Homo sapiens: one gene and its partners. The protein of the gene in region 2 interacts with the protein of the main gene of each other region in a pairwise test. Each region holds a gene or a part of one and is shown on either strand. Other genes may lie near its edges. The genes, in order: RAB30, NCOA5, ZNF326 and MEIG1.

What was found.
Region 1: the proteins of NCOA5 (region 2) and RAB30 interact in a two-hybrid assay, tested with the Homo sapiens proteins (one large-scale study listed by BioGRID).
Region 3: the proteins of NCOA5 (region 2) and ZNF326 interact in a two-hybrid assay, tested with the Homo sapiens proteins (one large-scale study listed by BioGRID).
Region 4: the proteins of NCOA5 (region 2) and MEIG1 interact in a two-hybrid assay, tested with the Homo sapiens proteins (one large-scale study listed by BioGRID).

The regions. Positions count from the first base shown.
Region 1 is NC_000011.10:83,067,099-83,075,255, forward strand, and holds the start of RAB30 (ras-related protein Rab-30), read right to left. Parts: upstream 4,800-8,157; 5' UTR 4,593-4,799; intron 4,365-4,592; exon of another isoform or gene 4,234-4,364; intron 1-4,233. UniProt on the Homo sapiens protein: The small GTPases Rab are key regulators of intracellular membrane trafficking, from the formation of transport vesicles to their fusion with membranes.
Region 2 is NC_000020.11:46,070,896-46,078,559, reverse strand, and holds part of NCOA5 (nuclear receptor coactivator 5), read left to right. Parts: intron 1-7,664. UniProt on the Homo sapiens protein: Nuclear receptor coregulator that can have both coactivator and corepressor functions.
Region 3 is NC_000001.11:89,999,854-90,007,517, forward strand, and holds part of ZNF326 (DBIRD complex subunit ZNF326), read left to right. Parts: intron 1-5,149; coding exon 5,150-5,185; exon of another isoform or gene 5,186-5,239; intron 5,240-5,279; coding exon 5,280-5,391; coding exon of another isoform or gene 5,392-5,395; exon of another isoform or gene 5,396-6,592; intron 6,593-7,491; coding exon 7,492-7,664. UniProt on the Homo sapiens protein: Core component of the DBIRD complex, a multiprotein complex that acts at the interface between core mRNP particles and RNA polymerase II (RNAPII) and integrates transcript elongation with the regulation of alternative splicing: the DBIRD complex affects local transcript elongation rates and alternative splicing of a large set of exons embedded in (A + T)-rich DNA regions.
Region 4 is NC_000010.11:14,963,977-14,971,640, forward strand, and holds part of MEIG1 (meiosis expressed gene 1 protein homolog), read left to right. Parts: intron 1-2,463; coding exon of another isoform or gene 2,464-2,492; coding exon 2,493-2,630; intron 2,631-7,664. UniProt on the Homo sapiens protein: Essential for spermiogenesis.

The DNA of each region.
Region 1 (8,157 bases), on a different chromosome or scaffold from region 2:
TCCCGCACCCATCACCCCTACCCCCTAGCCTAGTATTGCCAAAGTACCTCTTTGTACGTGATTATTTACGTTTGTCTCCCTCACCTGAGTGAATTCCTCCGAAGTAAACAGTATCTTATTCAATGTTGTTTTCCTAGCATGGTGCATGGAAAACTGTTATAACAAATAAGTAAACTGAGTATACTGTTGTTTTCCATGCTGGGGTAAGTATAAACTATTGGAATAAATACATTGTACAGATGAGGAAACTAAAGCTCAGAAAAAAAAATGTGATATGTCCAACATCATACAGCTAATAAATAAGCAGTGTCCAGTGTGAGAAAGCCTCGTCCAGAGCTCTCTTCTACTCCATCATGCCACATCCTACACATGGACAGCAAGAGTGAAAGATCTTAGATGTCTTCCAGGAACCTCAAACTCAGCATGTCCAAAGGTCCTCCCTTCGGAAAACAAAAAGACCTGGTTCCCATTCAGTGTTCTCTTTCTCTGAAAACGTCATCCCCAGTTGCTCAAGAAAAAAACTCAAGTCATTTCATGACTCCCTTTTCTCCCTATCCCCCCATCCAATCAATCAACAAATCTTATCAATTACAATTTTCAAAGTTAGTGTCGGCCGGGCATGGTGGCTCATGCTTGTAATCCCAGAACTTTGGGAGGCAGAGGCAGGTGGATCACCTGAGGTCAGGAGTTCGAGACCAGCCTGGCCAACATGGTGAAACCCCATCTCTACTAAAAATACAAAAGTTGCCAGGTGCGGTGGCTCACGCCTGTAGTCCCAGCACTTTGGGAGGCTGAGGCGGGTGGACCATTTGAGGTCAGGAGTTTGAGAGATCAGCCTGGCCAGCATGGTGAGACCCTATCTCTACTAAATATATAAAAATTAGCTGGGAGTGGTGGGTGCCTGTAATCTCAACTACTTGGGAGGCTGAGGCAGGAGAATCGCTTGAATCCAGAGATGGAGGCTGCAGTGAGCTGTGATCATGCCACTGCACTTCAGCCTGGGCGACAGAGTGAGACTCTGTCTCAAAAAAAAAAAAAAAAATACAAACGTTAGCTGAGCATGGTGGCGGGCACCTGTAATCCCAGACAATAGGGAGGCTGAGGCAGGAGAACTGCTTGAACCTGGGAGGCGGAGGTTGCAATGAGCCGAGATTGCGCCATTGTACTCCAGCAAGGGCAACAAGAGCAAAACTCTGTCTCAAAAAAAAAAAACAAAAAACTTAGTGTCTCTCTAAACCCTCTGTCACCACCCTAGATCTAAGCACCATCATCCCTCATACAGACGACAAAAATTATTTGCTACTTGGTCTCTACACATTCACTCTGACCAAGTCTTTCCTTCAATCTCCTCTACTTAACAGCCAGGATAATATTTTAATATCATCCTACATATGCCATTCATCTAGTTTTTTAAAGCCAGGCTAGGTTCTCATTAGCCTTAGGATAAAGACCAAAATACACCTGTAGCTCAAAGAACTGCCTACTCTCTAGCCTCTGCCCACCTCTCCAGCCTCATTCTTCATTCTAGTCTTTCTCCTCTTGCTCTGTCTCTAACTTCCTTTCAAATCCTCAGGTTCACCACTCTTCCCTTTGAACTTTGAACATGAAGTTCCCTCTGCCAGAAACCTTTGTCCCACTATAAGCATCTCCCACTGCCATCCTGAATTACTACTTCCGTTTACCCTCCAAGTCTCTTGAAGTGTCACTTCCTATAGGAAACCTTTCCTGATAACCCTAGACAAGGGGAAAGTACCATGTCAGGCACTCCTACCCAACCCTTTTGGAAATGGCATTCATCACACTTGCAATTATTTATTAAGTATATCCCCTATTAGAATATAAGCTCCATGAAGTCAGGGAAAGCATTTGTTTTCACTGATGTATCCACAGTGCTTAGTACATGGTAGCTGCTCAATCAATATAAATTGTCAGAATTATAGGTTGGGGCCAGATTATAGAGGGCTATAACATCAGTAAACCAAAGAGCAAGGATCATTATCCCTTTGCAAATAAGTAAACCGAAGCAGAAAGAAATGAATAGTTATTTAAGGTCCCAGAGACAGCAGTGATGAGGCCAAATCTAACACTACATTCAGCCCATTTCTCCTCCCTAGGACAATAAAAGAAACTTTGGTGGGTAAGGAAGTATTTCAGAAGAAGAAAATTAGGAATGAGAAGATGGTGCATAAAAGGTCTAAGAGGACAGCTTCTGAATCTGCCTGTTACACTAGTTGCCTCCAGATGGATAGCAGTTAGACTTTCCACACCTAGAGGAGCACTGCTGTTACATAAACAAATATAGCCACTATCACACTCTTCCCGTTAAGAGAAGAGAATAAAATAACAAACTTCTTTCCTGCACAGAGGAGAAGAAACAACCAGGGTGGGTGGGGAACTGTTGTCCTCCAAGTATCTTCAAAAAACCAAATGGGCAGTTTGGCCACCTGGATTGCTACTCAGCAATCCACAGGGAACAGGAAGAAAGAGGGGGGAAAGATCAGCCTTCCCACCACCAGCTGCAGCAAGGATAAGGAAAAAAAAAATGTATTGTATAAGGCAAGCCACTTGAAGACTACTTATTCCTTGGGAATTATGAGAACATTTCATGTAGAGCATTTAAAAACCTTGCTAATCCATAGGCAGGTGCCAGTGAAAGGAAAAGTGGCATGAGCCCAACTGCAGCATTTCATTGTTCACATGCTGCTGGGGCTAAATTATGTCTGTCACAGGAACTACAAACCAGACCAGGGGTCAGGCTCATTGCTGCTCATCCTGCCAAGCACAGACTGCAAGAAAAAGAAAAGGCAAAGAAATTCTCTTCAAAGAGGATTCTGCAAAAATATTCACATAGTCTACATCCACCCAGGAGTTCCTAGTTGAAGTGGAGGACCAGGGAGTGTGTTCTAAGATTGAAGAGAAAGAGATGTGATATGCTGGTGATAAAGGAGGGGTTTTGAAACAGAAAGGAAAAATGTAAACTGCAAATGGAGAGATAGAGAAATAAACAGAATTTCAAGAGATGTGGGTGGGATGGGGTGGGGTGGGGGGAAGAAATGAAAGTACAGGAGAGAAGGGTAGGGTGTCCAGAAGAGCAGAGCGTCATCAACAGAGAGACGCAGAGGCAAAGGCTAACTGTTGATCTTTTCCCAAATCCAAAAGCTGCTCATTGGCATCCCAATAAATCACTCTACTACAAAGCCCATACAATGGACTGTCCTTTGCATTCAGCATCAAGCAGCATTTAATGAAATATCACACAGCTACAACTTTGGAGACCTAAGGATCTGAATTTAAAATGAACAAAATTGGCTTAGCAGCAGAAGACAGCCAGTAAAGAATTTCGCCCATGTCTGACTCAGCTAGGAAAAGGTTTAGCATTCTAGAGTTAAGCAAATACTCTGGCATTTCTCCTTCTTTTGACATTCCAAGAGGGGGTGTGGTTGACCCCAGGCCCATTCATTTCCAAGGGTGTAGATCTCTCAGCCAAGACTGGCCCCATCTGTTGTGGAGCCAGCCAGCTGTTTATCTCAAAGTAACATATCTATTGCCCTAATTATCCCTATAACTCTTACAAGAGCATCATGTAAGTCAGAATGCTTTCTCTCCTGTTAAATGTCAGTTCGTTTAAAAAAACAACAATAACAAAACAACCAAAATCACTCTTCCATGGGCACCTTTCAGTAATGGCAAATGAAGGTTAACAGCGCTTCTAACTTTCCCTTTCTCTAATGTGTTAAAATGAACCCCTCTTCCCTAATCGATCTCTTCAAACCGTTATTTGTGAGTAGTGACTATGCCTCAGGAAACAGCAGCTCATTATGGTACCATTGTCAGTGGCAAAGAGCCTATGCAATGTAATTTAAAACACACAAGCACAAATCTGTCGGCTCCACTTCCAAACAATCTTGAATCCAGCAGTCGGAGAACGGAAAACATTTAACAAAAACGCTGCTTCCAGCAGCCTGAAAGAACCTTCGCCAGACACGTGAAATGTTTCTGACTGGCACGGAGTGCACCATTAAAGGACACTGTCACCTCAAATCAGCAGAAAAGGCGAGACAAACCACATAGACATACACACATAAAATAAAGCCCTACAAAACTTAAGCACGTTCATCTTAAAAATTAATAACTAGTGCTCGTCCAAGCGACATTCAAATGTTCTAAAGTAGTGCGACCACATTAATTCACTGTCTCCATTTCTCCCCACGCATCACCCCTTCCCACTCAAACCTCAGCTCTCGGGCCGTGTGTGACAGGACTGCAGTCCCCCACCTCTGCCTTCCTCAGATTTTCCAAGAGCACTCCCCAACATCCTTCCCAGCCCAGCCCCCTCTCTCCGCCTCAAAAAGGTTGAGAGGAGTTGCGACTAGGGAATTGGCAGGCACCCGTCCTCTGGCGGGGGAAGGTTGCTGGAGTTGTTCTTTGCAGTGACCCAAATGGCACAGAGCTTTTCCCCTTAGCTGTGCCTGCAAGCCTCTCCCCAATCCCCCCCACCTCCCCACCGCTCACAGCTTCCCAAAAGAAAGCCTTGAGAACTAAGCGGGAGGAATAACTTGGTAGAAGCATTTGAATAAATCACTTCAACTCACCTGGTTTGGGATTTTTCTCCCCACCCCAGGCATAAACAGAAATGGATGTGCGAATGAGTCACGCACGCAAGGGAAGGTCTGCGATGTCCTGAGTCCAAGGGCTGGAGTCAGTCCCTGCCCTGGTGCTGCTGCTACACTTAGCTCAGCTGGAGCGAGCGGCAATCGCAAGCCCAGCAGCAGCAGGGGGTGGAGAGACCGTAGCACAATGAATGCAGTGGGGCTTTTGCAATGACATCATCCCTCTGTCCAAACGTCCCCAATAGCCATGCTCGGGAGCGGTGCTTTCTGGGAACTGTAGTCTTCTTACGTCCTGAAGGGATACCCAGGCAATCCCCGAAACTACAATGCCCAAAATGCTCCAAGTGGGACGCGCCCAGAGTGAAGGAGCAAAGGGGACTCGGCCGCCATGTTAGGAGTACTGGGACGATTCCGCGGAGCCGGGCAGAGGTTTTAGGGGTGCGCAGGAGTCAAGTGGTGGTTCAGTGGGGACGGTGAGGTGGAGGACGATCTGGTCGGATAGCCGCGGGCACGAACCTGGGAACCAGAGGGTGGAGGCCATGCTGGGGACTGATGTAGGGCGGGACCGACTGGAAGCGGCATCCAGAGGCCCAGTGAGCCTCGGTCTCAGCTCCTGAAGGGGTTGCATGGGGCCCTACGCTTCCTTCTCCATTTTTTAGCTAAGAGATTGAGAGAGTCGGTTTACTTTTGGGCTTGGAGTATCATTTAGATCTGTTAACAGTACAGTTGAGAGAGTTGGTGTCTTTTGTTGAGGTGCGAGGACCCGAGGCGGCGACCCTCGCCTTTATTCGGAGAAGCCCACTTCCACCCACAGAGTTGGGGTAGTCCTCCGAAATGCATTTTTGTTTTGCCGTTTGTTTTCCAACCCCCTTTCACTCTCCCCAAAGCTTCAGATTCACTGATTTTTCATACAGGAATGATTAACAAAGGCGTCCGAAGAAATCGTTGTTGGAAGGTGACCAAGGTGGAAAGAGACGTTGCTTTGGCCCTGCAAGTAAGAAGAGAGAGGGAATAGCCTGAAGGAGTAACACTAAATTTAAAATGACACTTTTTTACCAACCAGCGAAAGCAGATGTTCAAAGGGGATATTGGCCAGGTGCGGTCGCTCACGCCTTTAATCCCAGCACTTTGGGGGCAGACGCGGGGAGATAGCGTGATTCTAGGAGTTCAACCCCAGCCTGGGCAACATGCGGAGACCCCGTACCGTCTCTACAAAAACATTAAACAAAAAAATTAGCTGGGCATGGTGGTGTACCCCTGTAGTTGCAGCTACACTAGAGGCTGAGGTGGGAGGATCGCTTGAGCCCGGGATGTTGAGGCTGCAGTGAGCCTCGATCCTACCACTGTGCTCCAGCCTGGGCGACAGCAAGCCCGTGTCTCAGAAAAGGCGGGAGGGGTGGGATATTATTGATGATAGGCCTTCTGACGTCTGGCAATAGATTCCAGAGTAACATCGGTCATGGATAAATTTTTTTTTTAACTAAGTGACTGAAACCAAAGTTAATTGTCTTTTGAGTGATTTTGCACAGTATCTCAAAATGAACTGTACTTTTTTTCTTGTGTCACTGAAACAGTGCTGTGTGTTCTTTTTCAGAGTCTGTCACACTAAGATGAGAAATGTCCTTTCTTCCTGAAGGTGTCTGATGTGTAAAAATATGATATACTTTGTGCTGTTTCCTCCCTTCCCTTTTGCATATTATTCTGAAACAACATTAACTAGTTACTTTGCGTCATTGAAGGTATGCACTTCCCCTCTATGTTAGGAGTGAATAAAATTAAAAATAGATCCTTATAACAAAGAAAGGCAGATAGAATGATTAAAAATGACCAAAACATGTTAGAAACAGTCTCTCAGGTGTATGCAGATGGTAATTACAAAAATACTTTTTCAAAAAATGATCTTCTGTGTCATGTTTCTGGGAACAAGTCAAGATGAATGAGTTTGATTTTTAAGCAGAAGTAGTATGTGTTGGTGTCATCCATGAATACAACAATGAAAAAGGCTCAAAGTTGTTGTTATTCAGAAACTTCTCTAAGTAATGGTGGTAAGTACAGGAAAAGGAGCAATGTCTACCATTTTCTTTCTAACCTTCGATTTAACTATTGTAATGTTGTAAGCTTAACAGAGACTTACACTTAGGCTTAATTTCAAGCTCTTCAATCATTTTTCCCGGTTGGTGATTCAGGTGTATTCTCATGTCTTATGTAAACTTATCATGAGTGTTGTTGATTTATAATATATTTCTTTATGTAAGCCATAGCCTTGTCAGTTTGAGTTATATGGAAGACAAATTGTAGGGAAAAAGAGCAACAGATTACTCAGAAACCTTCTGTGTGAGCTGGGCATAGTAGTGCATGCCAGTAGGCTTAGCTACTTGGGAGGCTGAGGCAGGAGGATCACTTGATCCCATTAGTTTGAGGCTGCAGTGAGCTATGATTGTGTCACTGTACTCCAATCTGGACAACAGTGAGACTATGTCTGTTTTTAAAAAAGAAAGAAAGCTTGTGTTTGAGAAGTGATACCTCTAGAATACAGTGATTTCTATAATTTGTCATGTGTTTGGGTAGTTTGAAGTTTTTCTATCCTTGTATCTAATGGACATCTGACCATAAAGATGAAAAAATCCTGCACTCATTATAAATTTTATTTATAAAATTGATATTTGAGGAGTTGGGGAGGCCAGCTTCTGAAAAAATAACAGTGTCCCATAGAAACACCACAACTTAGGAAAATATTGTTAAAGTGGAATTAGGAATATCTAGAGGAGGTAAAGCTTTTCATCTCTCAAAAAAGAATTAGGGCCAGGCACAGTGGCTGACACCTGTAATCCTAGCACTTTGGGAGGCCGAGATGGGCACATCACTTGGGGCCAGGAGTTCAAGACCAGCCTGGCCAACATGGCGAAACCCCATCTCCAAGAAATAGAAAAGTTAGCCAGGTGTGGTGGCGTGCGCCTGTAATACCAGCTACTAGGGTGGCTGAGGCAGGAGAATCGCTTGAACTGGGGAGGTGGAGGTGGCAGTGAGCAGAGATTGAGCCACTGTACTCCAGCCTGGGCAACAGCAAGACCCTATCTCAAAAAAATAATAAAGAGAATTAGGACATGGATTTGTATTAAAATTATAGGTAGCTCATTTAAGAGTATGAAGCCAATTGCTGTTAGAGCAAGGGTTTTTTTCAGTAGAGGTGTCAGGATAACCTATACAGCTCTAAAAGTATATGGCTGTTACCTTCCCATCCCTGTTGAAATCTCCAGGGTTAGAACCAAGTATTGTGTTTTTAAAACTATAGGTGAGTCTACAAGAGTTGGGTGGAGTAGTCCTCTACATCCTGTGTTTGTATTTTTGCAGTAAGTCACACAATAACAAAAGCTTTGAGAAAGATTTTAGGTTTATTGCTAATTATACCCATGAATGAATTCTGAAAATGTGTAGATAAGGAATTTACCTGGTGAACGGTTTACACATGGCAATTGTGGGAGGGAGAGGGGAGTGAGAGGAGATGAGATCAGTTTTAGCTTTAAGAGGACCAACCGGGCCAAGCACG
Region 2 (7,664 bases):
CTTCAAGGCCCAAATGGATTAATTGATTTTGCCTTGCCTCTAAGTAAAAAAGCCAGTTTTCCCCAGAAACATAACTAAACTACGTACCACAGTAAACTGCATTTCCTACAGTGAACTGGACAGTGCTGCATACAGTGAATCCTCGTCTGTACTGGTAGCTCCACTGGTCACCTTGTGAACCCAACTAACTGAGCATTACGCATAACATACAGCTGTCCTGCTTTTGGACAAAAACACCTGTATTTTGTTACCTGCTTATATGAAAGAATGTCCACTGTGTGTTTCATGTATATACTCCTACTTGGATGTGAAGTTCTAGCTACCGGGAATAGATTACGCATGCCCACTCTGCAGTTTAAGCAGACCCTAAGGGCAAGTAATGCTGCTGGTTTCATTCAGTTGGAGTCTTTGTCCACTCTGCCTGTGCAGCAGAGTTGAATCCAATACCATAGCTACAGCTATATACCACAGCTGTCGTGTGGATTCCCTGGCCATTCGTTGGTTTCACTGCGGAAGTGGGCATGTAAATTGGTATTCTGTCTGTTCTCTCTAAAGAATGCTTGCAGCTTGCAGGTAAATACTCTGTTGGTTGATTTGTGTGTATGTGTGAGTATCCTGAAGAACATAAACAAATCCTGCAGAACTTCAGCAGTTCCGTATAATGTCTGCTTTCATTAGCCTTCATCTAACCATGCCACAGATCTTGGGCAGTCCTATCTGTGTTGCTCCTTATTGTCCCAGCACAGAATGGAATACAGGTGGATAAGAGTTGCATCTAATCTTCAGAAGTACAGGGTTCCCATTGGAATCTTTAGTTGCCAGGTGGCTTGAAAGGAGATAAGGTGTGTATCCAATTTCCAAAGAGCGCTAACGTGTGTGTTTCCTGGTGACTTACCAGGAGTGTGGAATTTGTAACTATAAAAGACACTGACTCCGCTAGTAAAATCCTACCCCTCTCTGTTGTCTCCATGATACTTGGTGATCTCTGGATAATGTCTGTGTGTTTCTGCAGGCAAAAACAACAACAACAAATAAGCCACATTGCAGAATAGAGAATAGATCCTGTTTCTGTTATGGATTGAGAAGGGTATTTTATATCATCCTGTTAATGATACTTAACCAAATGCTTTTAACATTTCTAGTTGATTGTAGATATTCAACAAACATTGCAGTGTTGGGGAATGACCAACTTCCCTGGTTGAAACCCAGTAATAGCCGTTGCCAGAGCATTAAATTAAAAATATTAATTTACCCCAATCTAGAAATAGTTTTATGCTTTTTTTAAATAATAGTCCCCGCACAAACAAACATACAGACAGCACTGGAGAGGGCCTTATAAAATGAGCTTCTAGCCAGGCACAGTGGCCCACACCTGTGATCCCAGCACTTTGGGAGGACGAGGTGGGCGGATCACTTGAGCTCAGGAGTTTGAGACCGGCCTGGGCAACATGGCAAAACCCCATCTCTACAAAAAAATAGCCGGGCGTCATGGCTCTTGCCTGTACTCCCAGCTACTGGGGAGGCATTGAAGCGGGAGAATCACTTGAGTGCAGGGGGTTGAGGCTGCAGTGAGCCGTGATCACACCACTGCACTTCAGCCTGGGCAACAGAGTGAGTCCCTGTCTCAAAAAATAAAATGAGCTCCTTACCAACTATATAAATATACAGGTCACCTTTGTATGCCTTTTAAAATATCACCTTCCTCAGAAATCAATTGTAAAATGAGGTCATTTGGTGGTGTGGATAGGGCAGTGACTTCCTGCTTTATTTACAATCAACAGGAGGGACAGCTAGGCTAATTCAAATTCCATTAACAATCCATCTTCCCCTTGGTGATATTTCCCTAGCTGGGTTCCTCAGCATGTTATTTAACATGATGAAGTTCCATACAGTCATGTTTATTTGCTTCAGGGAAGAATGATGGTCACCATTAGTAACCCCATCTAAAAACCGAACTAAGAGTCCCAGTTTTTTACCTTAAAAAAAAAAAAAGACAAATTTAACATTGTATTCAAAATCCCAGTTTTTTACCTTAAAAAAAAAGACAGGTTTAACATTGTATTCAAAATAGCGAGCACTAACATTTTAATCATTGTCCTGATCATACTTTATCTCTTAAGATATACCAATAGGGCAGACATAAATTGCAAAGAGTAGGTGAGACGGGCAAGTAATTAATCTGGAAGGGGCAAATCATTTAACTGAGGGTGAACACTGGGTACCTCCTTTGGGTGCATGCTTCCAGTCAAAGCCTTGAGATAACTCCAAATGTATCAATAGTTGACAACAACAAACTGCCTTTATTTGGCAGCCCTAATCATTTTGTATGCCCCCAGCCACAGGGGGTGCATCATTCACAGGGGAAAAAAAACACTACCTATGGCAAATATTTCCTAAAGTTATACCTCTACATTTTTAGCGCTTTCTACGTTTAATAAGAATATTGGTATAAGCATACTGGCAAGACCTTTATAACACCTTGTTTTGCTGGACTTAACGTAGGTATCTTTGGGAGTTTTACAGGATTATCACCTCTTCAGATGTTTCAGTAAACCACAGTTCTGCTGGCTTTGCTCTCTATTCAATAATATGACTCCCTGATGACTCCAGCTGTCAGTGTGTAATTCTGACAATATTGGCCCAGCCAAGCACAGAACTCTGCATGAGGAATCTCTGCTCTGGATCACATTTCAGCCTGAATTCTTATCATCTAACTCTTGAGGGCCACTTCATTGAACTCCTGTGAGTACCTTGCATAGTTACCATGCAAGTTGTCAAGCATCGATACTAAGCATTAGTCCTTCTTCAAAGACAGGATCATGATTCCAGTTGTGCCTTAGATATCTCAGTTACCATCTTCAGCTCAACACCTTGACAGTCCAGATCTTGTAGCATATCTTTATGCAGATGTGGCCTCTAGGTACAAGAAGTAAGACTGTACTTCTGAATGACTTAAAGAAGAACAAATAGAATTAACTTGTCTGCATCCAACGCTCTGCAGAGGATTTTTCCCCATATATTTGTGAAAGATGTTAAACCTGGTATCTCTTTGGTGAAAGTCATTGGGTATCGGCTCATCAGAAATAACCTGGCTGTAGACAAGTTTCTTATATGACCTGAAATGCTTTCTGCTTATCCACAGGGCCCTAATGCTTTTGATTATTGCTTGCTCCCTGGTTGTGAGACAGCCCTTGCTCTAGGTGGGCCACAAAGAAATTCCAGGTTGTGATTACCTCTGCAGTAACACTTGAAGAAGTCATCAGTTCTCAGCAGCTGCCACCTCTACCAATAAGAAAGTTCTGTTTGTGCTGGAGAAGGTTGTCAGTGCTTCCTAAGGAAAAGCATGGACATGTGTAAAATTTGGGTCTGTGAGGTGTGATATCTCATTGCACGTCCATATCCTACCTCCACCTAATGGCAATATTCTGGACAAGTCTGTTGTCTCCATTTCTAACAGTAGCATGAAGCCCTCCTGGTGGAGGATCAACATCATACAGCAGCCAGCCATTTAGATGATGATATTTGTGGACAGTATATCTGTGACAGAAGTTTGAAGAGCTAATGAAGGATTTTTCAGGGTCAGAAAGAGGCTGGCCCTCCCAAGGAAGACATTCCGGTGAACAGAAAGGAAGAAAGGAGATGCTGACCTTTGCAGAAAAGAAAGAAAAAGACAGGGGTCTTCCTCCCTGACCGTCTGTAGAACCAAAGCCAAAGAAAACCATCTTGGATGTGAAGTTTCAGTCTCTTGCCAAAGAGAAATTCAAAGTCCATCACAGTTTTCCAAGATGATCATCTATCAGTTCTTACTCTGTAGGCTGTCACATGCCTGGTGCTCTGCACACCCCTTTAGTCCTCAGGAAGAGACACATTCTACCAGAAGCTCATCACTTGCCACCAGAGCCATTGTTTTCCCCTTCACCCCTTTCGCCCTTACGTCTCAAATGTTTCCCAGCAGTGTGACTATATTCCCCTCAAGGCAAAGAGTATTTGCCTTTTTCCCCCTCCTGAATAGATGAGGAATTTACAGCAGAATTTTAGTTGTGTTTGCCACCTGCCTTCAGTTTGTGGACTCCAGTGCTGAAATTTAACCACTGTTCAGTTTCTTTTTATCCTCTAGTGATGTAGTACCTGAGGGTATGCTGCATTTGGTTCCTTTAGTAAAACACCTCTGGTGCTGTGGGATGATATTGTTAACCTTATTATGCTCCAGAAACCTGATTCTAACCCACTTATCATCTGAGGTCCAGCGTCTCCCACAGGAAGCTTTGTCTTCTTGCACTTTGATTCGTGCATACTACTGCCCTTTTGTTAGCTGTAGTCTTGTTTTGAAAAATATGTTGGGGCCAGCAGCAGGAGCCCTTTTGTTCTGAGGAGTTCTTTGTTTGGGTCCTAAAGCAACCCTAAAGGGTTTTTTGTTTTGTTTTCGTCTCCAGAAGAACAGCAGTCTACCATAGTGTTTATCTTTTGGAGAAAGGAAAAAAGGCTTTGCCTTTCCTTTTGAGAAAATTATTATCTTCTTTGTCCCTACTTCCACCATGCCTTTGGTTCTTTTTCCTTTTGTGAATATCACCTCTTCTACATTTTTACCCTGAAGGCACTTGAGAGGGAATTAGTAGTTTTGTTGCACATGGACTTCAAATTATTTGAGGGAAAGGGTGGGGCTTGCCCTCTCAGACTGGAAGATTGAACCCAGACTTTGCGAATCTAGAGTTTTAGTCAACTTGCAGGGATGGACTTTGACAGGTAAGTAAGGTTTTTCAGTGGATTCAAAAGAATGAGGACCAATCATAACATAACACTTATAATACTCCGAAGGTGGTAAATAACATGCTATGACATGCCCCACCCCGATTTCCACCAGCCCAAGGCTTTGTGTGTGGTCTGTGGTCTGTCAGGATCATGATATCTCAGCCCTGATTGCCAAGAACACTTGAAATTGGATTCCACCTCTAATGACTACTTCTAACTGCTCCCCAAGGCAGGTTTATCTGCCGATCATTAATCCAAAAATACTTTGCAGTTGTCCTTTCTCTTTGGATCTTGAGTGTTTGCCCACATTACATGCTACATCAGATGTTACATGTTAGGAAGATTATATGATGTAATAAGGAAGGTTGAAGTAAGAATCTTGGTTAGTCTTTACTTTATTCTAATAAGAAAAATAATGCTTAGCTATTCTCATTTAAAGTCCCTGGTCTATGATATGTTTGCTCTCACAAGTCAGGAATGCTGGTGAACCTTAGAATATATAACAAATATTTTTCATGGAAGCAAAATTGGCATTTAAATTGTTTTTGCTGTGCCCGTGTAGCTGAGGTGAGGTTTTCCACAAGCTGATGACATCATGATGAATACCTAACGTGTGTAACCATGGTAGACGACAAAAGTATGAGCAAAACATGCTGCCTGCTCTTGAGAGGCTTACAGTTTAGTAGAATAATTCAATTCATTAAACATTTACTGAACTCCTATGGTGTATCCTAGAGCTACAAAGCCTTCAAGAGAACTTCTTATTTGGTAGGGAAGCCACGTAAACAATTACAGAACAGTGTGGTAAGTGCGGTTATAGAAGTTTGTACTGGAGCAAGATTCATTCAACATACATATAGAGCATCTGTCGTATAACAGACATTGTTCTACATAGTGGGTTTGTAGTGCAGAATCAAAGTGACATAGTTCTTGTCCTTGTGGCACTTGTAGTCTAGTAGGGCAGACAGACATTAAGTAAATATGTAATGTCAATTTGTGATAAATGACAAAAGTGAAAACAGTGCTATGAGAGAATTTTAGGGGCAGAAAGTAAACTTTGATTGAATCTAACAATCAGGGAGTAGGGGATATTTATATGCTGAGACCTGGAAGAGGAGTATAGATCTCTTCCTGCTACTCACGTAAAGGGATCAGGAAAGACGTTGGCTAGGCAGAGCTGAAAGGCCGGTGTGGCAAAGAGTGGTGAACTAGGGAGAGGGTGTGACAGGGTTAGAGAAGACAGGAGCCAAGATTATACAGGACCTTCATGGCATTGGTAGAGGTTGTAGATTGAATTCTAAATACTGTGGGAGCCTGGCACAGTGGCACACATCTGTAGTTCCAGCTACTTGGTAGGCTGAGGCAGGAGGATCACTTGAGCCCAGGAGTTCAAGGCTGTAGTGTTCCGTGATCCCACCTGTGAATAGCCACTGCACTCCAGCCTGGGCAGCATAGGTGAGATCTCATCCCTATAAAAATAAATACATACTGTGGGAAACCAGGGAAGGGCTTTACATACGTAACAGATCACTGTAGAGTGATCTTTCTGGAGAAAGATTTGGAAAGAGGCAAAAACAGAAATGAGGAGACTGCTTTAGAAGGCTCTTGCTGTGGTTTGAGGGTGAGATGATTATGCGCTGGCCTTCAGTTTTGCCAAAGAAGGTAAAGGAAAGTGGGCAGAACTGAGAAAGAATGGAGAAAATTTGGAAATGTGGTTGGAAGGGAGGATGAGGCTTTAAGGGAAAGATGACATCCAGTTTCGTGGCTTGAGTAACTGAGTAGTTGGATGTGCCATTTACTGAGATGGGAAGGACTGGAGGAGGAGCATGGTTGTTGGGGAAGATCAAGAGTTCAGGGCAGGTTTTACGGAGAAGGTAATCCTTAAAGCGGGTCAGACATAAGACATTGTTGTAAAAGGGTAAATGCCAGATCAAGATGAGTAATACAGATAGAAAGTGCCCTGAGCTGAGCAGAAGAGATCAGCAGTTAGGAAGGGTAGGGAAGGTTTCTTGGAAGACATGGGACACGAACTTGCCTGTGTGGATTGGATGGTACTTGGATTAGTGCAGGAAAAATATTCCAAGTATAGAAATCAAATAAATAAAACTATTGAGATAGATTATATCTTGTGAGTTATAAGAATTAAGTAGAACTGAGGAGGTTGAATTAGAAATGAGAGGGAGATAATAGCTGTCAGATTTATTAGGCTTTCTAACATAGAAGTTGGCATTTTAGGATAGTTAGTGTATTTATGTGTTGAATGAATTGAAAGCAAGTAGGTTGATTTTTAATTTTGTGTTTTGGAAACCTGTTGGTGTCAGAATAGAAATAAGGGCTTGGATTGGACTTACAAATCCAATGGGAATGGAAAGAAAAAGTGAACGGGACACAAGTGACTTTATTGGGATGGGGGAAGAAAAAGCATAGTTAATATTCAAGAACTTAAAACTTGATAAGTGGAAAGATGATTTTGTCAAAAGTGGAAAAGTGGGGAATGGGACTGATGGGGTTGGGGTAAGAAGTTTTTAATTTTAAATATGTTGAAGAGGAGTTTCCAGTGGGTTGAAACGTCTCATGAAGAACATTGAGTCAGAGCAGACAAAGCATATCTGTGACTTCACTGTTCAGGTTGTTTTTTTGTTTTGTTTTGTTCTCTTTTTTTTTTTTTTAAACCATCTTGAGCAAAATGGAATCAGCTTCTACGTAAACCCTCAGATTGAGAGATACCAATACTCAATAGCCCTGACAAAACAGAGAAACAGATTGTTCTTGGTCCTTTACTGTATGTATCTTATAGTAATTTTTTCCCCTTAATTTTATTATCCTGCCAAGATACTTCAAGTGCATTTTCCGTACTTTAAGGACAGTTCCTTTGATCACTTTTATAAGATTGTGCCATTCGCTCTTTTTTTCTT
Region 3 (7,664 bases), on a different chromosome or scaffold from region 2:
AGGTGGGAATATAGCAGTGAACAAAATGGACAAATATTCCTGCCTTTGTGAGGCTTTCCGTCTAGTGGGATGAAATAGTAAACAAGATAAGAAATAATATATATGTCATAATTTAGTCCACAGGGGAAAAAGGGAGTAATATTTATTGTATGTTAGATGATGATCATTGCGAGGGAGAGTAACATAGAGAAGGAGGATAAATGTGTGTGTGTGCTTGTATGTGTTGCAATTTTAGAGTCTCTGGGGAAAGACTCACCAAAAAGATGACATTTGAGCATAGATTTAAGATGAGTGAGTATGCAAGCCATGAAGCCATTTAGAAGAAGACTTACGGGCTTTAAGAAATAAACAGTGTGTAGGTACCAAAAAGCCAAAAATATATTTTATTGTTAGCACTGTATTTTCTAGGAAGTGAAATGAAGTAGAAGGCATTGGAAAACATGGCAAGATACAGATTTTCCCCACACTATTTCTTGGAAGGAAAATGTATTTCCAGTGTCTCCATGTTTTCCTTCTTGCTTCATAATACCTTTTACATAAATAGCATATAGAAAAGGGGAGAGAAAAGGGTGTGGTAGCTCATGCCTATAATCCTAGTGCTTTGGGAGCCTGAGGTAGGAGCACTGCTTGAGGCCAGGTGATTGAAACTAGCTTGGGCAACATAGTGAGACCCTGTCTCTACAAAAAAATTTTTTAAAAACATTAGCCAGGCGTGGTGGTGCCCCCCTATAGTTCCAGTTACTCCAGAGGCTGAGATGGGAGGATCGATTGAGCCCAGGAGGTGGAGGCTGCAGTGAGCTATGATTGTGCCACTGCAGTCCAGCATGGGTGACAGAGCAAGACCTTAACGCTGGCTTGACTAGAACAGATGATTTTTTGCTGAGCAATCTTAAGACAAGGTTAGAGTGGTGAGGTGGAGCCAGAAAGCATTGAAAATCAAAGATAATTTGCTTATATATCAGAAGCAATACAAGTGAAGACCTGAAAAAGTTGAGGGAGTAAACAGTGCAGGTTCAGGGGAATGAGCATTCCAGGCAGAGGGAACAGCAGCTGCTAAAATGGGTATACACCTTGTGTTCTAGAGACATCAAGGGGCCTGGTGTTGTAGTAGTGGAGTGAACAGGGGTGTATGTAATTGATAATGAAGTTAAGAGGTGATGGGGCATATCATGTAGGGCAGGGTTTCTCAAATTTCTTACATTTTGGACTGGGTAATTTTTTGTTGTAGGGGGATGTCCTGTGCATTGTGGAACATTTAGCAGCCTCCTTGGCCTCTATAATATGCCAGATGTCAGTAGCATCTGCCCCCTAGTTGTGACAACCAAAAATGTTTCAGACATTGCCAATGTCCCCAGGGGGTGCAAAATCTCCCCTAGTTAAGAACCACTGGTATAGGTTCTTAGATGTTATTTTAAGCTTTGGCTTTTACTTGGAATAAGAGGAACCCATTGGAGGTTACTGAGCATTGAACATGATTGAACTTAACATTTTGTCAGAATTATTGTGGCTGTTGTCTTCAGAAAAAACAGCAAAGGAGCAAAAGTGGAGCAGGAAAACCAGTTAGGAGACTTTTGCAATAACCTAGGTGGTAGATGTTGGTATCTTGTAGTAGGGTGCTGGTAGTGTAGAGTTGCTAAAAAGTAGTCCCACTCAAGACTTAATGTCACATAGTTAGTTATTTTGGTCATAGGTCAGTTTTTAATTTTTTTTTTTTTTTGAGGTGGAGTTTCTCTCTTGTCGCCCAGGCTAGAGTGCAATGGTGTGATCTCAGCTCACTGCAACTTCCGCCTCCTGGGTTCAAGCAATTCTTTTGCCTCAGCCTCCTGAGTAGCTGGGATTACAGGCACCCACCACCATGCCTGGCTAATTTTTTTTGTGTTTTTTAGTAGAGACGGAGTTTTACCATGTTGGTCAGGCTGGTCTTGAACTCCTGACCTCAGGTGATCCACCCGCCTTGGCCTCCCAAAGGATTGGGATTACAGGTGTAAGCCACCTTGCCCAGCCCATAGGTCAGTTTTTTTTCCCCCAGTATGTCACAGCTGCTGCTTTGTGTTTTAATTAAAAATGAGTTTTAGCATTTTTGAGCGTATTATTTGTATGATAGAGTGATCCAAGTGATAGAATATATTTGATTTAAATTATTAGGTCAGTTTTATTTTTCTGGGTAAATTACTATCATTTAAGATATACTACTATGTTCTCATGGTTTTATTTTTAAAAGTGATTTTAAAATTCATTTTGGTGACCTGGAAGAAAAATTTATAAAAAAGCAGTCATCTTACATTATCTGTAGCCCTATAACTACACTGATTGTATACAATATAAAGACTTTTCCTCCTGTTTAAATGAGTAGTAACATTACTATGAACAATCAAACAGAATCATTGCTATATAAAAGTAGCTTTATTAATTTTTGTACATTTCACAGTGCCTAACACATACATGGTTAGTGTACAATAAATGTTAATAATTTTATGATTATAGTGAAATAAATAGAACAAAAAACTAAAGGTTTTAATATTCAAAGGCAGCCAGTGCTAACTCAAAATAGAAACTAGCAGAAATAAAACATAAGATTTTTTTCTCTGTGTACCTGACTAAACATAATCTTATTTTTTAATATGAGGCCTTAGAGGAAAACTTTTCATTTTGAAAACTTTATTTTAATCTCAGAATTATCCTCTGAGAGATATGAGCATAAATTTTACTATATACTTACCAACTGTATCACAAAAAATTAACTATTTTATTAATCTGGGACTGTGTTGTCCAGTTTGGTAGCTACTAGCTACATGTTACTGTTGAGCACTTAAAACATGGATAGTTTGAATTGAAGTGCTCTGTAAGTGTAAATTACACACCAGATTTGAAGTCTTCAAATGAAAAAAGCAGTAACATATCTCCATATGTTTTGTATATTGATAAACTTTTTGTACTGTTATATTAAAACCCATTAGTATGTCTTGCACTTTGAATGGATCTTTTTTACCATATATTATTTTGTAATATCGGCATTATTTGGAAAATACTAGTTTTTATATAAAATGCAGATTTTCCAAATATTGATCAGTTTTATGGCACAATATTTAAAAAATCATATTCAGTGATACCACCACCAACCTTTCAGAAAGCCTTTAAGTATTGGGAAGGTGTCAAGCTCAAGGTGGTAGATACAACTTTTAAAAAATTCTAATGTTCACTTGAAAGCATGAATTTTATCCTTGACAACAAATAATGTCGGTCGTTTTCGTTAAAACAATGTTTTCACTTAGTTCTTTTTTTTTTTTTTTTTCTTTGAGACGGGTCTCACTCTGTCGCCCAGGCTGGAGTGCAGTGGCACGATCTTGGCTCACTGCAAGCTCCACCTCCTGGGTTCATGCCATTCTCCTGCCTCAGCCTGCCGAGTAGCTGGGACTACAGGCACCTGCCACCACACCCAGCTAATTTTTTTTGTATTTTTAGTAGAGACGGGGTTTCACTGTGTTAGCCAGGATGGTCTTGATCTCCTGACCTCGTGATCTACCTGCCTCGACCTCCCAAAGTGCTGGGATTACAGGCGTGAGCCACCGCGCCCAGCAACTGCTGTTCTAAGATAAAATTTGGACCTTTACCACAGGACTAGTAAATTTAAGATGAGGCCACAAATGGCAGAGTAAGGCAGAGTATCACAAGCACCACGTGAGAGTTACAGGCTTTTGTAAATATTCAGAAGAAGGATGACACTCAGCTGAGAGAGTATCAGTAAAAGTTTTCTTGAATGCATTAGGATTTGAAATGGACTTTAAAAGATTAGAAAGTTTCAATAAGCTGATATTTAGGGTAGCAGAGGAAAATGTTTCATGTAGAAGCAATAGCATGAGACTAGACAAGAGGATATGTATAGAATTTTGGGAAAATCATTTCATCTCTTTGGACGTCAGTTCCCCAGATCTATAAAATGAGAGGATTGATTTTGAACATTCAGGTTGCTACCAGGTTTAAAGTTGGATGACTTTGAGTACTATTTTTATAAAGTTGTTATTGTTGTCATTATTGTTGGGACTAGAGATATTATATGATTATATAAAATTTAATGTTTTAAAAAATATAAAATTAAGATATTTACTCTGTGTGTACTATTGTATTTATTTGTGTATGACATTTGGGGAGAGTAATGAGGGATTTTTAAAGGACTTTATAGAAAACAAATTCTAAATGTTTGTTTTACTTTCTGATTTTTGTAGTCATCCTAAATTGATTTTGTTACCTCTTTTGTTTTATTTTTCATATCAGAGGTTGGTATATAGGCAGAATTGCAGTGTAATAAAATAGACTTAATATGCTTATTGTATTAGTTTTTTTTTTTTAGTGTTCACATTGCTAGAATTTGCATTCATTTGTTGAGTCATAATTTATAGGCACAGTGCCATAGATTGGTCTCAATCTGTGATTTTACTTTTTAAAAATATCTGTTTCAATTACTGTGAACAAGGCTAATTGGAAATGTGGCTGCTTCTGAGTTTTCAGACATTTAAAGAGCAGTTAGATGCAGAAAACAAGTATAGTCTACTGCTGTCATATAGGACAAAAATTTCCCCTTTGACTTTATTAAATGCTGACTTCTTTTAAGAATAGGAATTATGTATCATTAATTATATATGCTATAGTACTTAATACAAGGCCTTATAGTAGTCCCCTAGTCCAACAAATATTGGTTAAATTGAAAATAATTCTGTGGCCAGGTGCAGTGACTCATGCCTGTAATCCCAGCACTTTGGGAGGCCAAGGCAGGTGGATTGCTTGAGCCCAGGAGTTCGAGACCAGCCTGGGCAACACGGTGAAAGCCCATCTCTATCAAAAATACAAAAATTAGCCAGTCTCATAACCCAGTCTCAAAAGAAAATAAAAATAATTCTAATATAGAACTTTTTAGTTGAAAATATGTTTTTCTTTGAAATATCAGGGCTTTTTTTTTTTTTTTTTTTTTAGCAAATTTGATTTAGTAGCTTCTCATCTTTGTGTTTTTCCCTTCAGCATTTAGTGTGAATTTAGTTTAAATGTTAATGGTAAATTATCTCAGGTGATAGATAGGAATATCTTGTGTTTTGTGCAAAGATCCCTGAAGAGAATGGTGTATTTTACTGACAATTTCTTATTGACTCTCTTTTAGGAATGGATCGTGATTATGGCCCTGGATCTTATGGAGGTCTGACATTCAAGGATATTTATCTAAAAATTCTTCTTTTGAGTGCCAGTAAAGGTGAGCATCATATAACTTTTTTCTTTTTAAACTCTTATAGGGATGGATCGTGACTATGGCCATGGATCCTATGGGGGTCAGAGATCCATGGATTCCTACCTAAACCAGTCATATGGCATGGACAATCACAGTGGTGGTGGTGGGGGTAGCAGGTAAATTGCTTAATCATTTGGCCAAATAATTAGACAACTATAAGATTTTGGATATATTATTTTAAGTACTCTTTAGGCATGTTATGATACTTGAACTTCACTGTTTGCTATTGAATCATCACCTTAAATATTTAAAGGTGTTAATTAATGGGTATAAAATTTAAATCAGTATTACTGGCAGACGTTATTTTAGGAAAACACCAGATAACTATATCATGTCAATATAATAGAGTAAGATACACTTTTTAGCAGTGAACTTTTAAAAAATTCTTTTACTTTTAACTTCTTGTCAATCAAAGTATCCTGAAAAATGATATAAAAATGTTATTGAAAATATTATTTATGAAGCTTTTTCTTAATAATTAAAAAAAATCTTTTCTAATGTGGGGTGCTATGTAAATTAGCAAAGCAGTCTAACTAGAATGGATTTTACTGAACCAGTCTAACATTTACTTTCCAAGAAACATTCAGGACATATTCCTTTAATTCTAATTTTAAAGGAAGAGCATATTGCAATAATAAAAATATTTTTAAAATTATGTTCAGGTTATTTATTGACAGGTACTACTTACACCAAAGCACTTGTGCTCTAGGCTAGAAGCATTGTATTAAAGCCATGAATACTATACCTTTGACTAGTCGAGATTGTATTTATATTTTCCTGTTACTACTGTATAAAGCTTAAACCTACTTAAACAACTACAAGCTTTAAGGTTGACCATATTTCAGGAGAAGGGGTGTCTACTTTTTGAGGCACAAAGGTTCCTGCTGAATATAAGTAAAACTAGTTAGTAGACATGTGAAACAGTCATCCTTCTGCATAAATTGAAGGATCCGGATTCCTTAATGATGGACTGAATGATGCTTACTTTCCTTCTTTCTGCTTCCAGTGTACCACTATGGTTTATAGTAAAGAAAAATTAAGAAAGTGAACAGTTGCAACTATTTTGCTTATGTGATAGATGTTTTGAAAAATGTAGTTGGAAATAGGAATAATTTTTATATGGTTACTAGGATTCAGAAGTAAATCTATTTAGTGATCTGTAAATAATTGAAGTAATGTAACACTTAATGTTTTAATATGTCAGTTATTGCCCTTTTATATTGTGAATGTAATGTGCATAAGCTATATCCGTAGATGTTATTGTTTTATCTCATGTGTAATTGTGGGCCTTTATAAAATTGTGTTGTAAGATATCAAGCAACTTTTGTAATCCATGCTTTGGGTTTGTGAGAAGGAAGATGATTTATTTCTTCTGTTAACTCTCTTAAAACCTCGAGGAGACTGTGTGCTCCCTTTTTTAGGGTAGTTTTATGTGATAATTTCCTGAAGGAAATAATTTTGCAAATAATTGAATATATTATAAGATGTATTCTTTCTCATCTGCCTTGAAAATTCATATGCAGAGGGTATATGTTGGTGATCTTTTATGTTTTATCTGTTTATCCTTCTAGATTTGTTAGATTTTCTAGTCTACAAGTAAAAAGTGATTGAGGATTGATTAATTGACCTTGGCTGAAGTTTGGCAGATTGTTAAATTTTTATAACCAGAGATAATTCCCCAAATTTTGACTCCTACAGACACAATGAAGCAGTTTGTGATATAGATTATTGGGAGTGCAAAAGGATCTCTCTGTGTCACAAATAACCTACATCTAAGTAGACTTCAATTTGTGTCCCTATTGAAAGCCAAAATATTGTAAATGTTTTGTAATTTTTAATATTAGGGATAGATTCAAAAAAGTTTGAATAGTTTGTGAACTTTAGCAAATGACCTTTTCCAAGACTAGGGCTGGGCTTAAATAATGACAGACAAATCTTTTCTTCTTCATAAAATAGAAAAGCTGCTAAGAAGCAGATTTTAAAGCTAAGTTTTACTAAACTCAATTCATATTTATAATCTGACTCAGATAGCTTTCTATCTGGTCTCACGTTGAACTGCCCAGCCCTAATCAAATGTGAACAAAAGTAGAACTGTGCAAACCAGTATGGTATAAATGAATTTTAGTTGATAAATGTCATCTGATAATTTGTCTTTTGAATTGTCTAACATTAGTAAGCTTACTTTTGTTTTTTCCCTCACTGTGCAACTTTTCCAGGTTTGGACCTTATGAGTCTTACGACTCCAGGTCTTCTCTGGGTGGGCGAGATCTGTACAGATCTGGCTATGGTTTTAATGAACCCGAACAAAGCCGCTTCGGAGGTAGTTATGGTGGTCGATTTGAGAGCTCCTACCGGAATAGCCTTGACTCTTTCGGAGGTAGAAACCAGG
Region 4 (7,664 bases), on a different chromosome or scaffold from region 2:
AGTCCCAGCTACTCAGGAGGCTGAGGCAGGAGAATAGCATGAACCTGGGAAGTGGAGCTTGCAGTGAGCCGAGATCGCGCCTCTGCACTCCAGCCTGGTGACAGAGCGAGACTCCGTCTCAAAAAAAAAAAAAAAAAAAGAATACAATATAAACACTATAATATTTAGAATGTTAAGTAATTTAACAAAAATCTAAATAGGAAGAGCATTAGAACATCTTTCTTGTTTTTCATAGAAAAGAGTCCATTGGTACTTGTGACTTAGCCTCCTAACAGTCTTCATTATCTTTTTTTACCAACCACTAAGGGAACATTTAGGCTACATCTTTCATATTGAAGAAATATTTGTCTGAAATTCAGCAAGTCTGTCTATTTTATTTCCATTTCCTATTTTTCCTCTATTAAATCCAAGTGAAGCTAAATTTATGTCTTGTAAAAGCATTTATTAGAAGATCCTTTTAAATAAAACTTTTAAGTCTATGTTAATTAATCGTATATTTAGCATGATTTTTACCCAGTATGAAGGATGGATATTTCTAATTAATGTCATGCTTATTTTGAGTTTTCCTTTATATATATGTATATAAGAGTGTGTGTGTGTGTGTGTGTGTATATATATATATATATATATATACACACACACACACATATATATGTATACTTTTTTTTTTTTTTTTTTTTTTGGAGCCAGAGTCTTGCTCTGTCACCCAGGCTGGAGTGCAACCTCCACCTCCTGGGTTTCAAGCGATTCTCAAGCCTCAGCCTCCCAAGTAGCTGTGATTGCAGGCACCTGCTACCACGCCCAGTTCATTTTTTTTTTTTCCTTTTTGAGAAGGAGTTTCGCTCATGTTGCCCAGGCTAAAGTGCAATGGTGTGATCTCAGCTCACTGCAACCTCCACCTCCCAGGTTCAAGTGATTGTCATGCCTCAGCCTCCCAAGTAGTTGGGATTACAGGCATGTGCCACCATGCCTGGCTAATTTTGTATTTTTAATAGAGACGGGGTTTCACCATGTTGGCCAGGCTGGTCTTGAACTCCTGACCTCAGGTCTCCTGACTTCAGTCTCCCCAACTGCTGGGATTACAGGCTCGAGCCACCATGTCCAGCCTTTCCCTGTTATACCTTTAATGTATTTCTTGACCTTTTAAACATAATGAGCATTTGTTATTGTGATTGAAAAAAATTCATAAAATATTAATTTATTTACAGGATCTGACTTTAATGTGTTTCAGCCAATAGAAATATATTTTAATAGAAGAATGCATTCAAGGAATCATAGTGAAAATTCTGTACACTTTATTTCAGTTAAATGACTGATATATTTTGTTAATAAAATAAGTAGCTGAGAAAACAAGTGTAAGATTATGCCTTTGAAAAACTTGCTATGGAAGTTCGGTGAATAGACAATTACATGAACTAAAGTCGTATATTAGACTTTCCAAGACTATTAGTGACCTCCTACACTGTTTTTAAATCCATGGTCTCAGTACCACGACAGCCACACAGTGTGCATGGAATCTGTGTTAGGCCATTTTCTCACATTAGTTCATCAAAAGATCAGGTACTACAGTGACCTCAGTAAATGAATTGCAGCAATTGGGATGTCTCCAAGCAATTAAGAAGTGAAAAAGAATAAACCATCCCCTCCCAGAAACAAGAAAGCGAACAGAGTGAGAAGACGGGTCTTACATTCCCTTTTTGAGAGAGAGAGAGAGAGAGAGAGAGAGAGAGAGAGAGAGAGGTGCAGCTTTGAATATAAGTAATGGAATGGTGGTGGATATTTTGACAATCTACTGAGCATGTTTTCAGAAATGTGCAAACTATTACCTGGAACTCCAGTATTTGCATACAGCTTTTAGAACATCACTCCGTAACTCCAACTCTGACTGGGATTTTATTGATAAAGAAAAAAACAGTTTTGTATGTATCTTTCAGGGACTTGGGGTTTTTTTTGTTTGTTTCTTACAGTTTTATCCCCACAAAATAGAGCATGAATCCTTCTCAATCTTGGAATTGTATGTTTAAAAACTACTATATTTAATGGGATTCTCAACTCTAAGTATAATTTTTAAGTGTTAGTTTTATTTATTCTTTTTTTTTTTTTTTGAGATGGAGTCTTGCTCTGTCACCCAGCTTGGAGTGCGGTGGCACAATCTCAGCTCACTGCAACCTCCACCTCCTGGGTTCAAGCCATTCTCCTGGCTCAGCTGCCCCAGTAGCTGGGATGACAGGCGTGCACCACCATGCCTAGCTAATTTTTGTATTTTTAGCAGAGACGGTGTTTCACCATGTTGGCCAGGCTGGTCTCAAACTCCTGACCTCATGATCCACCTGCCTCAGCCTCCCAAAGTGCTGGGATTACAGGTGTGAGCCACCGCACCCGGCCAGTTTTGTTTATTCTTAAAGGGAATTTCAAAATTGTCACTATTACATTATCCATTAATGTTGTTTTAACATCTTTCAGATATTATTGATAATAAGGCCTCTGTAACCATGGCTAGTTCTGACGTAAAACCAAAATCAGTAAGTCATGCCAAAAAATGGTCAGAAGAGATAGAAAATCTGTACAGATTTCAACAAGCAGGATATCGGGATGAAACCGAATATAGACAAGTGAAACAAGTTTCTATGGTAAGATTTCTGTCTCTACAAACCTCAACTCGAAATGTATTTCTCAGATGCTGAAAAGTATTTTATAAACAACCAGAGAATAACTGAAGGAAATTCGACTCCAACTCTCTCATTTTATTTGTTTTCTTTTATTTACTTTTATTTTATTTTTTGAGACAGAGTCTCATTCTGTCACCCAGGCTGGAGTGCAGTGACGCAATCTCGGCACACTCCACCTCCCGGATTCAAGGGATTCTCTTGCCTCAGCCTCGTGAGTAGCTGGGATCACAGGCGTGCACCACCACGCCTGGCTAATTTTTGTATTTTTGTAGAGACGGGATTTTGCCGTGTTTGGCCAGGCTGGTCTTGAACTCCTGACCTCAAGTGATCCACGCGCCTAAGCCTTCCAGAGTGCTAGGATTACAGGCAATAGCCAGGACGCCCAGCCAGACTCTCTCATCTTATTAACGGGGAGAGGCCCAGAAGAATGATTTGCAGGCAGAGTGGGAGAAGAGGTGGTCGTTTAGCTGGGCACATTCAGAATTTTCTCTTTTATTGAGCAACTGTGCTCTGCTAAATGAATCTTTTGCGGTAGACCACAAAAAAAAAGCTTTTTTCCTCACTCAGGTGATTTCATTATCAGATAATCAGTATGTTGGGTAACTATTATTTCCCTCCTGTTACTTTTTATTTTAACCATGAATTAGAAAGAGGTTAAAATCCTGTGGTTTTTGGGGCAATTATACCTTACAAACAAAAGTGTTAGAACAACTCGTGACTTTGATAGTATATCCCAGGCTTTCCTGAGAGGGTAGAGACCTAGCTTTGCTTTATGAAGGCTAGACCAAAGTCTAGATTTGGCTCCCGTTTATACAGTGTGGTTCTTCTTAACTTATTTATTCTCTTGGCTACTAAGATATTTTTTTTTTTTTTTTTTGAGACAGAGTCTCACTCTGTCACCCAGGCTGGAGTGCACTGGCGCAATCTCGGCTCAGTGCAACCTCCACCTCCCGGGTTCAAGTGATTCTTAAGAGACGTGTTTTTACAAATTCAGTTCACCCCTGAACAACACAGGGACTAGGGGCTTCAATGCTTCATGCCGTCAAAAATTTGTGTATAACTTTTGACTCCCCAAAACAACTACTAGTAACCTAGTGTTAACAGAAACTCTTGCCCATAAGGTGAATAATTGATCAACCCAGGAATACACTAATATCTTGATATATTTTATGCATTCATGACAAACCTTTTCTTAATTATTTTTGATATTTATAGTCTGTGTGGTTTGCAACTTTTTTCAAATCGTTGCAAATCTCAAAAAAAATTTCAACAAATTTTTTGAAAACAATCCATGTATATATGGACTCCCCAAGTTCAAACTTGCATTGGTCAAGGGTCAACTGTATTGTAAAATATGACATAGTATTCATAAATATATTTTAATTTTTAGATTTGGGATTATAACAGTGTTTATTAACTCAGTTGTTTATTTTTATTTTTTACTAACTCATCATTTTTCAGATTCTAATGTGTAGATTTTGCAGATCACTATAAGCTCTTCTTTTTCTTTTATTCTATTCTTTGACCTCTACTTAAAAATTCCTTTAAAAGTACATAGGAGGCTGGGAGTGGTGGCTCACGCCTGCAATCCCAGCCCTTTGGGAGGCCGAGGTAGGCAGATCACTTGAGGTAATGAGTTTGAGACCAGCCTAGCCAACATGGTGAAACCCTGTCTCTACTAAAAATACAAAAATTAGCCGGGCATGGTGGCATGCACCTGTAGTCCCAACTACTTGGGAGGCTGAGGCAGGAGAATCACTTGAGCCCAGGAGGCAGAGGTTGCAGTTAGCTGAGATCACACCATTACACTACAGCCTGGGCAACAAAGCGAAACCCCATCTCAAATAAATAAATTAATTAATTAAATTAAAATTTTAAAAGTACATAGGAAAAATAATGGAGGCAATACGGAACTATCATGTTATTACCTCTTTAATAGACATTAATTTAATGACATTATTGTGGTTAACAATAGAATTTAAAATACTGATCAAGTGAAGATTGATTACTGTGACTTCCATGTATCTGTCTTCTCAACCATTATACTCTATCCCCATTGCCAAGGATAATTTTCATTACTATATCATCTATGGCTTTTAAACAGAAAAAACAGAAGCATTATCATTTTTATGCTGTTTAAAATAAGCTTTGGGCTGGGCGTGTTGGCTCACACCTGTAATCCCAGCAGTTTGGGAGGCCGAGGCAGGTGGATCATCTGAGGTTGGGAGTTTGAGACCAGCCTGACCAATATGGAGAAACCCTATCTCTGCTAAAAATACAAAACTTGCCAGGCATGGTGGCACATGCCTGTAATCCTAGCTATTCGGGAGGCCGAGGCAGGAGAATCACTTGAAACCAGGAGGTGGAGGTTGTAGTGAGCCGAGATCACGCCATTGCACTCCAGCCTGGGCAACAAGAGTGAAACTCCATCTCAAATAAATAAATAAATAAAATAAGTTTCATACCCTGCCTTAAGATTGGGATGCCCCTAAAGATACACAAGCCTCAGACTCATAGGCGGCCAGCTGTGGTGGCTTACGCCTCTAAGCCCAGTGCTTTGGGAGGCTGAGGGTGAAGGATTGCTTGAGGCCAGGATTTTGAGACCAGTCTGGGTGACATAGTGAGAACCCATTTCTACAAAAAACTTTTTTTAATTAGCCAGGCATGGTGGAGTGTCTCTGTAGTCCCAGCTACTGGGAGGCTCAGGTGGGAGGATTGCTTGAGTGCAGGAGATCGAGGCTGCAGTGACCTGTGATCACATCACTGCACACCAGCCTGGGTGAGAGAGCAAGACCCTGTCTCAAAAAAAAAAAAAGAAAAAAGGAAAAAAGAAAAGAAAGTTGTCACAAGAATTAAATGTAATCACATGTTTGAAGTGCCTGACATTATAGTGCTCATAATTTGTTGGGCTGGGCACAGTGGCTCACGCCTGTAATCCTAGCACTTTGGGAGGCAGAGGCGGGCCGTTCACCTGCAGTCAGGAGTTAGAGACCAGCCTGGCCAACATGGTGAAACCCTGTCTCTACTAAAAATACACAAAATTAGCCGGGCATGGTGGTGCACACATGTAATCCCAGCTACTAGGGAGGCTGAGGCAGGAGAATCACTTGAACCCGGGAGGGGGAGGTTACAGTAAGCTGAGATCATGCCACTGCACTCCAGCCTGGGCGACAGAGCGAGACTCCCCCACAAAAAATTTGTTGACTGAAGGAACAGCAAGTGTTTAGTAAATGATACCTTTTATTAATCTCATCATCTTAGATTCTAAAATAAGTAACAAGAACAATAAAACCTTACACAAATCGAAGTATATGTTCCTTAACAAAAAGAAGCACAGGGATTTAGAGGAAAACAAAATCACTTCCTTCCAGGGACAATCCCCAGAGAGGGCTTAGTGTCCCCAGTGGCATTTGCAGTGGGTCTTCAGGGACGGATAGGATGGTGACTGAAGGCTTGCTTTGGGTGGGATGTTTCTCCCAGTGTGCAGTGGTTTGAGGTTTGAGAGAAGCTGTTTTTCATTACCTGGTGGTATAGTGCTTGCTGACCTTCCCTCCTGAGGGGAAAGTCCTTGAACTTGAGGATCTCATTCCATTCCACCACAGGCAAGAAAGTTTCCCAGATCAAATGGAAATGATCAAGTTGAAAGTCAAGAAGAAAAGAAAGTTCAGAGATGCCAAGGGACATCAAAAGGAAAAATGTCTAGAAGTCAACAAGCAAAGGAGCAACTTAGCTGTCCTAAGGATTGTCCCATATCAAGTAGCTCAGCTCCAGATGTTCGGAAGAGGCATTGGTTGTACTGTTTTCTCACCGGATCAGATGGCTTTCAGATAATCTGCTCCTGGCCCCAGGAGGGAAGAGGGCTGTAATGGAGTCTTGAGAACACCTCCTTTCCCTGCCAAAGGTATTGGAAGCCACACAGGCAGGTGTGGCCTCAGTGGTGGAAAGGACTGCTGGTTTTCTGTAATGTATGTCAGAAGGCCTGCCAAGGCTTCTCAGATATGCTGTTACCTATTCTCGCTAATTCATAAGTAAATGAGATGACACAAAAAATGAAGATGTGTTATTAGAAAGTAAAAGACATGTGGACACAGATGGTATATTCATCTCCTCTTCCTACTGAAAGCTGAGATTTATTCATGGGGAACAGAAAAGGTGCAGGACTACCTGTATAGAAGGTGTTGAAGAACAGGATTTGGAGAAAGGGTGCAGGACTGCCTGTATAGATGGTGTTGAAGAGCAGGATTTGGTTTTCTACAACCTAGATAATGAGTTTTTGGTTATGATAAAGTGCATCTCACAAAATCTGAAAGGAACATATTTGACAGTGGTGAAATACATTAACCTGGCCAGGAAGGGATAACATTGAAGAGGAAGTGGAGAGACAGATCTCCAAATTAGATCAAGCCAAATGAAAAAGTAGATAAACCAATATGGTATACAAGAAGGAATGGTAGGAGATGACTGGGGACAGTGGCTCACACCTGCAATCCCAACACTTTGGAAAGCCAAGACAGGAGGATCATTTGAGACCAGGAGTTTGAGACCAACCTCGGCAACATATAATAATAATGATAATAATAATAATAATAATAACAACAATAAAGAATGGTAGAAGAAATTAAAAAAAAGATTTTTGACACTTTGGGAAGCCAAGGTAGGAGGACTGCTTTAGGCCAGGAGTTTGAGACCAGCCTGGGCAACATAGTGAGACCCTGTCTCTACAAAAAAAAAAAAGAAAAATAGAAAACTTATCTGGGCATGGTGGTGCTTACCTGTAGTTCTAACTACTCGGGAGGCAGAGGCTGGAGGATCCCCTGAGCCCAGGAGGTTGAGGCTGTAGTGAGCTATGATCACAACACCGCACTACAGCCTCGGAGACAGAGTGAGACCCTGTTTCAAAAAAAAAAATGGATTTCAAGGTGAACTTGAAATTGGGGCAGAAGGAAATGCATATACACTTTTGGATAGTTCTTGAGTTGCTTGCTTTATTCACTG